Linked DNA regions of Homo sapiens: region 2 is linked to region 1. The links come from fine-mapping of genetic effects on gene expression. Tissue or cell type: whole blood. Region 1 holds a variant in brackets; the other region holds the start of a gene. All regions are shown on one strand. Distances are from middle to middle.

Evidence for each region. PIP is the estimated chance that this variant, and not a neighbour inherited with it, causes the effect.
Region 2: UGCG starts here. The variant in region 1 is fine-mapped to the expression of UGCG in whole blood (INTERVAL, PIP 0.91).

The regions. Positions count from the first base shown.
Region 1 is chr9:111,999,152-112,007,258 of GRCh38, forward strand. No RefSeq gene overlaps it. Among named protein-coding and RNA genes, the nearest start is that of LINC02977, 37 kb to the right of the region's middle. The variant C/T (reference allele first, on the strand shown) is at 3,564.
Region 2 is chr9:111,893,331-111,901,437 of GRCh38, forward strand. It overlaps UGCG (UDP-glucose ceramide glucosyltransferase), which reads left to right and starts at 3,484. Exons shown (of 9, transcript NM_003358.3): 1 at 3,484-3,983. The coding sequence starts at 3,886. RefSeq lists an enhancer at 2,935-3,518 and silencers at 3,139-3,728, 3,839-3,928.

The sequences.
Region 1 (8,107 bases):
TTTGTAGGGCTCATTGTGAAAATTAACTAAAATACATTGTGCAAGGTGCTAAATAATCGACTGATATTATTATATTCCTCTTTCAACCGTGCTGCACTATGCTTTCAAATTCATTTTCACGATCTTTGCAGTTAGGACTGATTTTTTTCTAATGGTAGTGTAAGTTTCATGTTTCAATATTTCATGCCAGTTGATCAGTCTGTTTCTCCAGTAAACAGAGCAAGGATATGTGCTCAATCATACTTGCCTCACTGGGAAGAAATAATTTTGCAGTGTCTACCTTTGCTCTGGTCCATGTCATAGCAGAGCCTGTGCTATAAGAAGAGTTTGTAGGTTGCACAAGATGTCACCAGGAATGCTCTTGGCAGGCTTTCAGAGGGCAGTAGCTGGAAGATAGGAGCTGCCATGTTACCAAATATTCAGAGAGCACAGGCCCGACCCAGCAGATGCTGGGAGTGTACGGGGACAAGTATACAGTCATGCTCCCTCATTACTGCTACCCACCCGAAGATGGGATACCCAGAAAGGTTTGGCCTCTCTAAATCTTAAGATTGAAGCTAATTTTCCCCTTCTCTAAGTTTTTAAGTATCAGGTAAGGGATTGAAATACATTTTTTAATGTAGAGAGTATGTAAGTTTGAAAGCAGAAATTACTTATATGGTCTTTTTAATTTCTCTGTATATGAGAACTATGGCTTTGGAGCCACCTGCTCGAGATAGGTGATGCTTGGAAGGTATAAGTGGAACCCAGATAAGAAGGAAATTTTGTGAGTAAATTTTACTCTCTTTTTATTGGTAGAACATATTTTAAAATCTTATATAAAGGTCCTAATTTTTGTAACATCTTCAAATATGTTGGAGCAAATTATATTTTCCAAAGTTGGCCTCACTAATGTATAGCATGACTCACAAGCTCTGATTATAGATATATGCAAATAACAATATGTTGATTACATCCCAGTAGCTATTGACCTTTGAGTTATGACCCAAAATTCAGACCCTAACACTTGACTGAAAGTCTTTTCCTATACTCTATTCTGCCCTAATGCAATGTTAAAAGCCCAGGAGGTAGAGTTAAACACCCTGGGTTTGATTCTCGGTTTACCACTAACCAGTTGTATGACCTTGAATGAGTGATTTGACCTTTCGGTGCCTCTGTTTCTTTATTTGTAAGATAGAGAAATAATTGTCTCAAATTCACGGAGTTGTTGCTAATTGAGTTAATACAGTTAACACCCTAAATATCCTAGAACAGTTCTAAAAACACAGTGTATGTTTAATATATGCTAGCTGATATTCTTCTTCTTTTTTTTTTGAGACAATCTCACTCTGTTGCCCAGGCTGCAGTGCAGTGACACGATCTCGGCTCATTGCAACCTCTGCCTCCCGGGTTCAAGCAATTCTCATACCTCAGCCTCCCCAGTAGCAGGGATTACAGGCGTGCACTACCACGCCGGGCTAATTTTTGTATTTATAGTAAAGATGAGGTTTTGCCATGCTGTCCAGGCCGGTCTCGATCTCCCGACCTCAGGGAATCCACCCACCTTGGCCTCCCAAAGTGCTGGGATTACAGGCATGAGCCATTTCACTTGGCCTATTATTCTGGGTGGTATCATTCAAATGGCTGATACAGAAGGAAATATAGAAGGAAATTGAGAAATACTGTAATCCAAGTACCAAGCTGATTTCTTTATTCTGGTTAATAAGTGAAGCAAGGAATTATCTGTTGACTCTCTCTACTGATACCCGCTCCACTGGTCATTTCTTGAGCAACTGAGAGCATGCTGTGGTGGGACTGAGGCTACCGCTGGAGGGAGCTGGCCTGATTCACACACTTTCTGGAAGCTGAGGGTTGGGAATGGGTGTGTGTGTGTGGAGGGGACTATGGAAAGGAGAGATCAGGGTACTTCGAGGGAAAGCTTACCCTAAGGAGAGAAAGGACTAAATTCAGTACATTAGTTGCACCAAGAACAAACCACATATTTTATTATTTTTCCCAATTTTAGGCCCCACACACTTACAGCAAGCCATGCCAACCCTCGGCCTTGGTGCAGGAGAAGGGGCAAAGCCTATAAAGTAAGGGGCTGGGTTGAAGGTGCTGGGCCAGGAGCGAACTCTGGAAGAGAGAAGAAGAAAGGCGGAGTCCTGAAACCGTCCTGCTTCACTCAAGGAGGAAGAAGCAGGGCCCTGCCTCCCCCTATTTCCACCTGAACCCCACTTTTTTTTTTTTTGATCCAGAGTCTTGCTCTGTCACCCAGGCTGGAGGGCAGTGGCATGATCTTAGCTCACTGCAACCTCCACCTTCCAGGTTCAAGCGATTGTCTGCCTCAGCCTCCCAAGTAGCTGGGATTACAGGCGCCCGCCACCACGCCCAGCTCATTTTTGTATTTTTACTAGAGATGGGGTTTCATCTTGTTGGCCAGGCTGGTCTCAAACCCCTGACCTCAAGTGATCCGCCTGCCTCGGCCTCCCAAAGTGCTGAGATTACAGGCATGAGCCACCGCGCCCAGACTGAACCCCATATTCTTAATAAGTTACTACATTTATCCCATCCTGTTCACCATGAGCACCATCATATATTGAGTCTTTTCCAATTATTTTATTTAGGCCTCATGAATTACTCTGAGATATATGCGTGTGTGTGTGTGTGTGTGTGTGTGTGTGTGTGTATACATATATATATATTTTTTTTTTTGAGACGGAGTCTCGCTTTGTCACCCAGGCTGGAGTGCAGTGGCATGATCTCGGCTCACTGCAACCTCTGCCTCCCTGGTTCAAGGGATTCTCCTGCCTCAGCCTCCCAAGTAGCTAGGACTACAAGCCCACACCACCACGCCCGGCGAATTTTTGTAGTTTTAGTAGAGACTTGGTTTCACCATGCTGACTAGGCTGGTCTTGAACTCCTGACCTTAGGTGATCCACCCACCTCAGCCTCCAAAAGCGCTGGGATTACAGGTGTGAGCTACCATGCCTGGCCTGAGTTCAATATTTTTCCGTCCAGGTAAGGATGGGAAATTCAGTTTCCTGTTAAAACTAGAATTTAAATCCAGTGCCAGTTCCAAGACTCATGAATTACACCACACTGACTCCCACAGTGAAAAGTTGAATTCTTTTCTGAGACAGAGTCTCACTCTATTGCCCAGGCTGGAATGTAGTAGCATGATCATGGCTTAACTGCAGCCTCGGCCTCCCAGGCTCAAGAAATCGTCATACCTCAGCCTCCCAAGTAGCTGGGACTACAGGCATGCTCCACCACACCCAGCTAATTTTTGTATTTTTTGTACAGATGAGGTTTCATCATGTTGCCCAGGCTGGAAAATTTAAATTTTTATCCCCATAAATCCAATCCCTCCCCTAACTACAGTTCCGGGAAAAGGAGGGAAAATTGGACGGTAGATATCAAAGCAGACTGGAGGCCTATAATAACAGGATATGCTGAGCACAGCAGAGCTCTTGGGTTATCATAAGTGCCAGTCACCTGCTCTCATCCTGCCTGTTTACAAGTCAGGAAATGAAGTGAGGGGGAAATTGACAAGTAAGCAAACTCTAGAAGTTTTGTTCATC[C/T]GCGAGACAGAAAAACGTCAAGGTTCCAGACAGGCTGAGCATGTAGCTCACGTCTCCTGCAGCCACACCAGACTGGAGGCCCAGTAAGATAAATGCCATCATGAATGCGCTCGCATCCACAAGCAGAACCCCTAGGGCACCAGCAGCTTCTTCTCCTGGCCAGTTCTGGTTGATGGACTCACGTAGGCTCACAGACTCATAAATACTTAGTTCAGATCCCAGCTGTCCTGTGTCCCCTCATAGGGTTGCTGTGAGAAATACAATGAGACAACATCTGTTAAGGACTCGCACAGTGCAGTGTTCACTCACCTCACTTGTCAAGGGTAATTCTAGACTTCTCCAAAAGGTTACAGAGTCCTGACAGTTCAAGGCCTTAGATATTTCAAATTAGCTTTCTTCCTCAGCCTCAGTTCAGGCTATCAGAACGCTCCACCAAAACGTTAAATCTGACCTCATCATAGTCACATAAATACCAGTTTGAAAGAAAAAATAGTTTATAAAACAACTGGCCGGGCGTGGTGACTCACGCCTGTAATCCTAGCACTTTGGGAGGCTGAGGCAAGTGGATCACGTGAGGTCAGGAGTTCCAGACCAGCCTGGCCCACATGGTGAAACCATATCTCTACTAAAAATACAAAAATTAGCTGGACGTGGTGACGCATGCTTGTAATCCCAGCTACTCAGGAGGCTGAGGCAGGAGAATCGCTTGAACCTAAGAAGCTGAGGTTGCAGTGAGCCAGGATTGCACCACTGCACTCCAGCCTGGGCAACAGAGCGAGATTATGTCTCAAAAACAAAAACAAAAAGCAACTGTAAGCGTGTATTCTATGGTCACACCACACAGTTCACTGTTAATTAATATAATTTAGAAGTCCTCTTACGGCTATCTTATGGAATAGCACATTCTGTATTATGGGAAAGTGTGGTTTCCAATTGTTTTGGTGGGAAGAGTCATTTCCAGGTTAGAGTTCCTTATCTCCTCATCATGGTTGACCTTGAGTGCATCGCTGGTCTAGGTGACTTAATTCAGCAGTGGTGGTTCCTCTTCAGGGGTAAACCCCAGATGATTTTTTTTTTTTTTTTTTTGAGACGGAGTTTCAATCTTTTTGCCCAGGCTGGAGTGCAATGGCGCAATTTTGGCTCACTGCAACCTCCACCTCCCAGGTTCAAGCCATTCACCTGCCTCAGCCTCCCAAATAGCTGGGATTACAGGCATGCACCACCACGCCCAGCTAATTTTGTAGTTTTAGTAGAGACGGGGTTTTGCCATATTGACCAGGCTCGTTTCAAACCCCTGACATCAGGAGATCCACCCACCTCAGCCGCCCAAAGTGCTGGGATTACAGATATGAGCCACCACACCTGGTCATGATTTTTTTTTTTAGACATTAGTTAACACCTGGTACATTCACAATGCTGTATAACCATCACTACTATTTCATTGCAGAAATCTTCATTACCTTGAAAGGAAACTTCATACCCATTAAGCAGTCATTTCCCACTCTCTCTTCCAGAACTTGGAAACCACTGATTTGCTTTCTATCTCTATGATTTGCCTATTCTCGATATTTCACATAAATGGAATCATTCAGATCATTTTTTTAAGAGGTGAGGTCTTACTATGTTGCCCAGGCTGCAGTGCAGTGGTCCATGGGTGCACTCGTAGTACACGATAGCCCAGAAATTCCTGGGCTCAAGCAATCCTCCTGCCTCAGCCTTTCGAGTAGCTGAGACTACAGGTATGCACCACCACTCCTGGGCAAATAATGTATTTTGAGAGCCAAAGCTAACCCATCTGACTGAGAGATCCCCACTTGGGGGGGCCCTGGGCCAATCAAGGATCCCCAGTTCACAGACCCCGTCACAGTCTATCCCCCTTCGACAGCCCCCAATGAGTGGCTTTCTCAGATGAGAAAAGAGGGTTGGTTGAGCTGCTTCTTCAGTGATTCCCATGGGCTGAAAACCCAGTTTTCCTCTTCCCTGGGCTTATCCTGACCCAACCTGGCCTTACACATCAGAGCCAACTGCTCCCACACTGCGAAGAGCCATTCTGTTGTAAGAAGTGTGCTCTCTGATGGCATATAAAGCCAAGGAATTAGAGACTAAGAAAAAGTGGCCAGAGAAGTAAGAGAAAAACCCAGGATTGTGAGATGTCATGGGGCCCAAAGGAAAGCAGACTGAAAAAAACAAGAGAGGAATCAACAGTGATCAAATAAGGTGAGAACTGCAAGAAAGCAAGCTTCAGGAGAGAAGTTTTGATGGCAAGAAGCCTCAGCTAGAAACCACACTGCTATGGGTTGCAGGTGGAATAGGAGGCAGAGTGGGTGGGGTGGAGGCAGTCAGGGTAACTGACACTCTCAAGAAGTTTGGCTGAAAAGGAGAATAGAGAAAATGAGTCGCATCCAAAGAGGAGCATTCACTGGGCATGGTGGCTCACACCTGTAATCCCAGCACTTTCAGGGGCCAAGGCAGGCGGATCACCTGAGGTCAGGAGTTCGAGACCAGCCTGGCCAACATGGTGAAACCCTGTCTCTACTAAAAATACAAAAATTAGCTAGGGTGATGGTGGGCAGCTGTAATCCCAGCTACTCTGGAGGCTGAGACAGGAGAATCGCTTGAACCTGGGGGGCAGAGGTTGCAGTGAGCAGAGATCACGCCACTGCACTCCAGCCTGGGTGATGAGTGAGACTCTGTCTCAAAAAAAAAAAAAAAAAAAAAAAAAAAGAGGAACATGGGCTCTAAGGCGGGTTATTTGAGTTTTTTTTCGTTTTATGTCGTTTTTAGAAAGGGTCTCACTCTGTTGCCCAGGCTGGAGTGCAGGGGCACAATCATAGCTCACTGCAGCTTCAACCTCTCCAGGATCAAGTGATCCTCTCACCTCAGCCTCCCGAGTAGCTGGGACCCCAGGCACGCACCACCACACACAGCTAATGTTTTTGTATTTCTGTAGAGACGGGGTTTCGCCAAGTTGCCCAGGGTGGTCTTTAACTCCTGGGCTCAAGCAATTCTCCCGCCTCAGCTTCCCAAAGTGCTGGGATTACAGGCATGAGCCACTGCACTCAGCCTATTCTGGGTTTTTATGTGTTTGTTTTTGGACCTGGAAGCAGAGAGCATGTTTTCATGTTGATAAAAATGCTCTCTTGGAGGAGAGATTGCAGGTGCAGGAGGGAGGATAACCACCTATTGTGCCTCAGAACGCTGAGGATGGATCCACTACAAAGATCCTTTAAAGGGGGACCTGCCCCAGCCATGAAGGCCTCACGGGATGATTCCACCGGCACACAGTCTGTCAAACATGCCTGGAAGCAGGGAGACTCTTGGCGGAGACTCTTGGCAGAGACTGCGATGGAGAAGAAAATGGCAGTGCAAGGTGCAGGCTGGGGCTCCAGGGTGAACTCAGCCTCTTCCCCAAAGTAGCCTCTTCTCACGCCAGAACGACTTCCTGTAAGTGTCTTAGACGAGGAATTGGTACAAGGTCAGCCTGGCTCCTGTCAACGTACCTCCCCAGGGACTTCCTCACAGCAATCTTAGAGGTGGACAATGCCTCTATTTCAGTCTTTCATTGTGGAAAAGGAACAGAAAAGAGTATAAAAGCAGGATTAGGGCAAAGCCAGAAAACAAGATTTCTGACTCCCAGCCTCTGATCCTGCCCCATCCGATGGAGGCGACATCCCTCCGAAGGAGCTGGTTCAGAGAGGTGAAGCAGCTAAGTGGTTGAAGGAGGTAATCAAAGTAACTGCACAGAGCACATTTCACGGGAAGAAGTACAAATAATATCTCCTTTTTTTAAAAAAAATAAATAAACTTGGAGGGTTGTGAAATTAGCCTGTCTCTGCAGGATGTACATCCTGAGATTTGTTTGGCCTCTCAAGGATAATCGGCTCTCTTTCCAATGAGATTACACAAAAGCCAGGGCCAAGCAGGAGCAGAGAGGCAACTGTCACATCTCACGCAAAGTCACATTATCAGCCATGGCACTGGTGGCTGGGTGGCAGATACCAGTGTACTCCAAAAGGGTTGGGGGCTCCGAGTGTGCATCAGCTTGCAGCATCAGTGGAAGCATCGGTCAGCTCTGCTCCTCTTCCTGGCCTTGGGGCCTCTCCAGGCCGCCCCCCACTCTGACATCTGATCCCATTCAGACTCTCCCCCCGCTGTTCTCTTGGGTATTCCCATCACAGCTATGATCATGAGATTATGCTGTGTTTGTTAGAGGCACAGTGGGAGGGTGAGAGAATGGTATTAATTCTCAGGACTAGTTACAACCCTCCAAAGAAGGGGAAAATGCGTGGTGCAAAGTGTTTTTTCCAAAGCTAGGCCTTATCTTGCCCGCAGTGTGGTAGCCACAGACAGGAGCGTCAGCAATTTTGTATGCCTCCTGCGTTGGACCGCAAAGGAGACAGAGGTGGTCCTAAAATGCACTTTCAGGCACTATCTCATTTAATTCTCACACTTCTGGAGGCATAGGGGTTGTTGCTGGAATTTTGCAGATGAGGAAATGAAGGCTTGAAAATGTTAATGATCGGCAGTGGTCATACAGCCAGTGG
Region 2 (8,107 bases), 110 kb before region 1:
ATGCCTGGCTAGATTTTGTATTTTTTGTAGAAACAGGGTTTTACCACGTTGCCTGCCACCACGCCCAGCTAATTTTTCTATTTTTTGTAGAAACAGGGTTTCGCCATGTTGCCCAGGCTGGCTTGAGATCCTCCCACCTTGGCCTCCCACAGTGCTGCAATTACAGGCCTGAGCCACCGCGCCCAGCCGCAAACTGGTATATCTTATTCAGACATTTATAGCATTTCCAATGTTATACACATATTTGTATACATATATAAGTAGAACACCTTTAGTGGAACACTCACTAATTTTTTTTAAGAATTTACTTTTTAGAGTAGTTTTAGGTTCACAGCAAAACTGAGCAGAAAGTACAGAAGGTTCCCATATACCCACTGCCATTCCCTCCACCAGCCTCCTCCACTATTAACATCTTGCACCAGAGCACCATATTCGTTACAACTGATGGACCTACATTAACACACCATTATCACCTAAAGTCCATAGCTTACATTAGGGTTCACTCTTGGTGGTGTATTTTCTACGGGGTTTGCCAAATATATGACATGTATACACTATTATAGGATCATACAGAATAGTTTCACTCACAGCCCTAAAAATCCTGTCATCTATTTGTCCCTCTTTCCTCTGCTCCATGGCAACCACAGATCTTTATACTGTCTTCATACTCTTCCCTTTTCTAAAGCTGTTTTAAAACGAAGTTTGGGTAAACATAGTTTAACTAGGGTCAAGTATAATATAACTGATCTTTAATCTACTGATTATACTCAATTTAGCAAATTTGTTAACTCTTAAGAATATCTACTTTCACATTTCTTTGGCCTCTTTTTTTGTGTTATTGGTCATACTGTATAAAATCCTTTGTTGTAAGGTTCCAGAAAACATTTTTGAAAAAATGCAGAATATAAAACAATGCTTAAATTAAGCAATTGGTGTTCCTCAAATCTAAGAGGGCATTTAATGATAAGATGCAGCATTATTTTATATATCACTAAGATGCACTATTATTTTATATTTGAGTAAAAGAAAACCACAAGCCATTGGCTGGGCACGGTGACTCACGCCTGTAATCCCAGCACTTTGGGAGGCCGAGGCAGGTGGATCACGAGGTCAGGAGTTCGAGACTAGCCTGAACAATATGGTGAAACCCCGTCTCTACTAAAAACACAAAAATTAGCCGGGTGTGGTGGTGTGCAAATGTAGTCCCAGCTACTGGGGAGGGTGAGACAGGAGAATTGCTTGAACTCAGGAGGCGGAGGTTCCTGTGAGCCTAGATCACGCCACTGCACTCCAGCCTTGGCGACAGAGCGAGACTCCACCTCAAAAAAAAAAAAAAAAAAAAGAAAAAACGCCAATTAACTCTAAGATGGCATTGACTGTGAGATGCATTCCCATTTCAGAGAAATTAAAATTTGTTAAAGTGTTTTTTTGAAGTGTGCCTTAGAATTAACTACAATCGTAAATTTTTGTTTGGAACGTTATTTCGATGTTAGAATTCTATTCCACTTTTTTTTAAGACAGGGACTCACTGTCACCCAGGCTGGAGTTAAGTGGCGCGATCACAGCTCACTGCAGCCGCCACTTCCCAGGATCAGGTGATCCTACCACCTCAGCCTTCCCGGTAGCTGGGACTATAGGTGCCATAACCATGCCTGGCTAATTTTTTTTTTTTTTTTTTTTTGTAGAGACAGGGTTTCATCATGTTGCCCAGGCTGGTCTCAAACTCCTGGCCTCAAGCAATCCTCCTACCTGAGTCTCCCAAACTGCTGGGATTACAGGCATGAGCCACTGCGCCTGGCCCTCCATCCTGCTATTTTTATCAGCCAGTAACTCTCAACAGTGGGAATTTGATTTTGAAGCATTGTTCTTTCCCACTGATTCTGCACCAGTGGAGCCAAGGATGTTAATCGAGGAATGGTTCGGACATTAACTCTTCTAGTTGTAGTTTGTCATTTAATTGCAGATTGAGGTAGATCATTCAGTGACTATTAACTACCATAAACAGCAATAATAAACAACTTCTTTTCTTTTTTTTAAATTCATCTATTTTTTTTCGAGACAGAGTCTCGCTCTGTCGCCCAGGCTGGAGTGCAGTGGCGCGATCTCGGCTCACTGCAACCTCCGCCCCTCCAGGTTTAAGCAATTCTCTGCCTCAGCCTCCGGAGTAGCTGGGATTACAGGCGCCTGCCACCACGCCCGGCTAATTCTTTGTATTTTTAGTAGAGACGGGGTTTCACCATCTAGGCCAGGCCGGTCTTGAACTCCTGACCTCATGCTCCACCTGCCTCCGCCTCCCAAAGTGCTGGGACTACAGGTGTGAGCCACCGCGCCCAGCCACAACTTCTTTTCAAAATTGAATTCAATTCTGAAATATCTCAAGGGAGGTCATGGATTATTTAAAAGGAAATCACTTGCAACAATAAACATAAAACAATGCAGAAATAGTATAAACTCATCTAGATTGAAGAAACACAAACATTGAGTACTAGCATCTTCTTGGGATGACTTAAAATTAGGACAAATACTTAGTTACCTTACTACCCAAAGTGACATTTCTTCCCATTTTAGAGCTGTGCTGTCCACACGTACAATTAAAATTTTCTAGTAGCTAGCCAAAGTATTTAAAAAGAGAAATTAACTTAATAATTTACCTAATTTAATGTAGTATGTCCAAAATATTACCTTTTCAACATGCAATCAATATAAAATTTACTAACGAGATGGTCTTCCACATCTGGTGTACTGTTTACTCCACAGAGTGGCAAGCTGCCTTTCCAACCCTCACTTAGCCACATGCGGCTACCGTATTGGATGGCAGTCTTAGGGAATTTCAATATCAACTGATTCTTTAATTCTGAATTTGAGAATTTCTTTTTATAATACACACGGTCGCTAAGGCGCTTAGAGATCTGTGAGGCGCATGGAGATTATTTTACTCTCCGGTCCCTTTTGATCCAAGATCCCACAGCATTAAAAGCAGTAAGAGGGAAGGCAATGGGCATCCCTTGCGCCCAGGAACGTGGCCTGGAGGGCCTGGCTGCTCCGAGCAGTAGCAGTGCCCGGCGGGGAGGCTGCAGACGCGGCGTTGGAAGTTGGATTTCTAGACAAGCTCCGGCAGCTGCCCGGAACCCGTGTCTTTTTCTGGGGCACCCAGGAACAGCAGGGCCAGACGGAGAGAGAGCAGCCTCCAGCCAGGCACAGGGTCCCGAGCTGCCACCGACACCGAGGGAGCCCGGCCCAGGGCTGCAGCGCTTTCCGCCTAGGTGGGCGGCAGCGGGAGCGAGGAGCCGGAGGAAGCCCGGCCTGCGTCCTGCGGGCAGCAGGACACGATCTCCCCGGCGCGCTCTCGCCGGCGCCGCAGCGGGCGCGCGGGCGACAGGGTGGGCGTGGACCGATGGGGGCACCGCCCCTGGGAGAGGCGGGCGCCGCGGTTCCGGGGGCGGGACGCGCCGAGGAGTGGGGCGCGAGCCGCCGGTTTTGATTAGTGCGCGGAGCTGCGGCGGTGGAGCTGCTCGGCCGGGAGCCCGGCGGCGAGACGGAGAGGCGGCGGAGGTGCCCGCGCGCAGGGTCTGGTGGGCGGCCGCGAGGCTCGGGAGAGGCGAACCGGAGCGCGGGACCGCGGTCGCCCCGACCAGAGCCGGGAGACCGCAGCACCCGCAGCCGCCCGCGAGCGCGCCGAAGACAGCGCGCAGGCGAGAGCGCGCGGGCGGGGGCGCGCAGGCCCTGCCCGCCCCTTCCGTCCCCACCCCCCTCCGCCCTTTCCTCTCCCCACCTTCCTCTCGCCTCCCGCGCCCCCGCACCGGGCGCCCACCCTGTCCTCCTCCTGCGGGAGCGTTGTCCGTGTTGGCGGCCGCAGCGGGCCGGGCCGGTCCGGCGGGCCGGGGGATGGCGCTGCTGGACCTGGCCTTGGAGGGAATGGCCGTCTTCGGGTTCGTCCTCTTCTTGGTGCTGTGGCTGATGCATTTCATGGCTATCATCTACACGTGAGTGAGGGACCGCAGGAGGGGCTCGGGGCAGGGGTCCGGGCCTCGGAGACAGGCGAGAATGGGAAACGTTTGCGCTTTGAAGGGGACTGGGCTCGGGCGGGGGTGGAGAAAGCTGATCGTCAGGCTGTTCCCCCCGTTCCCTCGCCCCTCGGACCGGCGGTGGCGGTGGTCTTTGCGAGGGAAAAGTGTTGGGCGTGGGAAGGGTTTGCTGGGTTGCAGGCGACTGCCCAGCCAGGCTAAAGGAGACTGCTCTTACGTGTCAGGCTGAAGGTGGTGGCTTGGTTTGATTGTGCTGGGGATTCGTGTAATTTTTCATCTGGGCCGAGATGTATGGTGTATTGTTTTTTTCTCCCGACCTGGGCCACGTTTCTGTTAGGGTGGTGATTGTGTCCACTTTTCTGGGAGCTGCTCACAGCTATCTGGACACCTCTCTGTGGATTTTCTTCTTCCTGGAAGGGCTCTATGCGCTTAGATAGGTGTGAAGCACCTGTCCACCCTGAAAAATGTCCACCAAACCTCCGAGCTGGCATGATAGCTTTGAGTCCTGTCAGCTTGTACATCTCAGCGTGGTTTTCTTTCCTTTTTTCAGTTCCTCGTTTTATTGTTTTATGTAGATTTGTACTCTCCCCGTGCCGGCCACATCTTTTCATTTTTGTTTAACAAATACTTCTTGAGGCCTACTAGATACCATTCACTGTTATTGGCCAGGGGACATGGTGGTGAGCAGGACAGAATTCCTGTCCTCATGAGTCTTACATTCTAGAAGGAAGGAGCAGATAAAATCTAAATAAGGTTATGAGATTGTGACGAAGCGTGTAAGTAAAATAGAACTGGGTGATGGCGTGAATAGAGACATGGGTTATGTGGCTAGTTTGGTATATCCACTGTTTAAGGTGAAATCTGCCTCTGTAAAGAAATGAAAAAATTATATAGAGCACATTACTGATATCGATTCACTTGGATTTTTAGTCTGGGGGGAGAAAAGAGCAATTGTATATAGTAATCGTTACCATGAACTAGAATAGAGTGTATGTTAGTGGAAGAGACTTTAAGAAATTAGTTACTTTTAGTTTTTTGGTTTTTTTTTTTTCCTTTTTACTGCGGAAAAAGTGTGCCTTTGCTTTTGGAAACACTGTATTTTATTAGTATAGTGTGGCATTTCCTGGTACTGAGAAAGATGATGCTGGTACAGGTTATACTGATATTTCTTTGAAAGTGAAAGAAAACATGCCACTTGGATATTGTTGACTTTAGTTTTTGGAGTTGGTGAGCTTAGTCACAGCACATTCTGGAGTTCATTTAAAATATGTGAGTTCTTTTTCTTTAAAAAAATTGTTACTTTTTACCGTCATAAAAATAAAAAATGCTTACTGTGTAAGGAATTTATGCAATAGAGAGAGATGGAGAAAATTAAAATATGCACACACCAAAACTACATTACCTTGTTAACCTTTTGTGACTATCCTTCCAATCTGTGTGTGTGTGTGAGAGAGAGAGAAGGAGGGAGGGGAAGAGGGAAGAGAGAAAAGGACTATATTATGATTATTGTTCTGTAACCTGCTTTAAAGTTCATCTGTTTAATAAATGTTTATTGAAAAGCCGTTTTGTGCAAGGCACTGTTCTAGTTGCTGGAAGAGTGAAGAACAAACATACAAGGCCCCTGTTCACATGGAACTGTCCTGTAAAATGTCTTGACCGTTTTTTGCATGTCAATATCTGTATGATCTCTACATCATTTGTAATAGATGCATGATATTTTAGTTTACCAGGTACCAAGATTTATTTATTATTACTGATGGATGTTTAGGTTGTTTCCAATTTATCTAGATTACAAAGAACACTGTGATGAATTTATATGCATACATCTTTGAGAAATGATCTCATTTATATTTCCGAAAGAGGAATTATTGGGCCAGAAGTGGTGCACATTTTAAACTTTGATACATATTGGCCCCATGGAAATGTTATGTATATTCACAGTCCTGGTAACATTGTATGATGGCCCCATTTTGCCTTACAAACACTAAGTAGCAGGCATTTCACTGTTTTCTGTTTCTATTTTCATTCCTTTAAAGTTACATTGAGCACTTTTAAAATATGTTTATATGCTAGTTACATTTAGATGTAAATTACATACTCATAATCCTTTGCCTGTGCTGCAATCTGTTGCTGAATTCATCTTTCTGATATAAAGGTTGTTTTCTGTCACATGTAGCATTCTTTTCCCCAGTCTGTTTTTTGTCTTTTAACTTTGTACATATATTTGACATGGAGAAAAGTGTGTGTGCATGTGTGTTTTAGGTAGATAGGTCTTTCCGTTTCTTTTACATTTTCTAACTCTGTTATAATTTTTATATCTTCCTTATTCCTCCAAATTATTATATATGTTAGTCTCTGCTTCCTCTTAGTATTTTTTTCTTAATTTTTTCACATATTACCCTGAATTCACCCAGTATTTTACTTCGTTATATGAGAGCTAGAGCCCTAATTATAGTTTCTTCTAAATATTTAGAGACTTGTCCAGAATTACTTATCAGATGATTATTTGATTATTCCACTGTTTTGAAATATTTTTATTATAAACTAAATTCTGCTTTATACTTGGGTATGTTTCAAAGCTTCTATTGCCCTTTCTTAACCTATTTTAGATGGCAGATGTTTGTAGGATTTCTGCCAACAATGTCAAAGGTAACATTCAGATTAGAGACATTTCAAATTCAAGAGTCTTATTGTTGAGATTGAAGATTTCCTAAAAATAACTAAAGAGTATAGCCTTGGCAAGTTAAATAGCCTTTATGGGTTAATTTTTTTTTTTTTTTTTAATGGTAAGTGCTAGTGTGGCTTGATAGGTTGGGGCCTAAGGTGAAATTGTATAAAAGCCTAGACCTGATGGTAGTGTTTCTCTTCTAGCCCTTGGGAGCCACGTTGCTGCGTGATGAAGTGATCTAAGCAGAAACCTTGCTTCATGCTCTCTTCCCTATCCCATCCACCTCATATTATTATTATTTCCCTGTGTACATAAGGTCCTAATGTTTATCATCAGGCTTTATCTTTCGACTGGAGGTGCTAGGCTAGTGTGGAAATAATTTATGTGTCCTTAAATATTAGCTACCCTCAAGTAAAACAGAGGTCCTTTTTTACCTGGAGGTGTATATGTATATGTGTGTGTGTGTGTGTGTGTGTATTCTTTCTTTGATACAGGGTCTTGCTCTGTTGCTTAGGCTGGAGTGCAATGGCACGATCTTGGCTGACTGCAACCACCGCATCCCAGGCTGAAATGATTCTCCTGCTTCAGCTTCCTAAGTAGCTCCCAAGTAGCTGGGACTACAGGCATGCCTGGCTAATTTTTGTGCTTTTTGTAGAGACAGGGTTCTGCCATGTTTCCCAGGCTGGTCTTGAACTCCTGGACTTAAGTGATCTACCTGTCTTGGCTCCCAAAGTGCTGGGATTACAGGTGTGAGCCATCATGCCTGGCCCCCTGGAGATTTTTTAAGTTTTTTTTAAAGTTAATTCTGCTTTCTACAAACGTATTTCCTTTATTTTGTTTATTGTTATTTTTTTGAGACAGTCCTCTCTGTTGCCCAGGCTGGAATGCAGTGGCTCGATCACGGCTTCACATCCCAGGCTCGAGCAATTCTCCCACCTCAGCCTCCCAAGTAGCTGGGACTACCGGTGCATGCCATCACGCCCAGCTAATTTTTGTCACCCAGGCTGGTCTCAAACTCCTGGGCTCAAGTGATCCCCCCACCTTGGCCTCCTGAAGTTCTGGGATTACGGGCGTGAGCCACTGCGCCCAACCCAAATATGCTATCTCTAATGTACAGCAACTTCAATACCTGATGCACAGTTTTTGAATGGAATTTGCATACTCATTGTGTCAGGATAACTGCGATAAACTACCCGTCAAAAACTGGTTATGTTTTTCATGTAAATTTTAGCATTTGGGATATTATTTTTAGTTAGTACGATCTTTGCCTTAAATTCATGAATACTTGGTGTTCCAAGCCTTAGTGGAATGTAAATTGAGAACGTCTTTTTTGGGTTTAGTCCTGCCAATGCCCTTGGACTGTGGTCAAACGTTCATCAGTCAGGATCATTGCTACAGGGCTACTTTCAGGGAA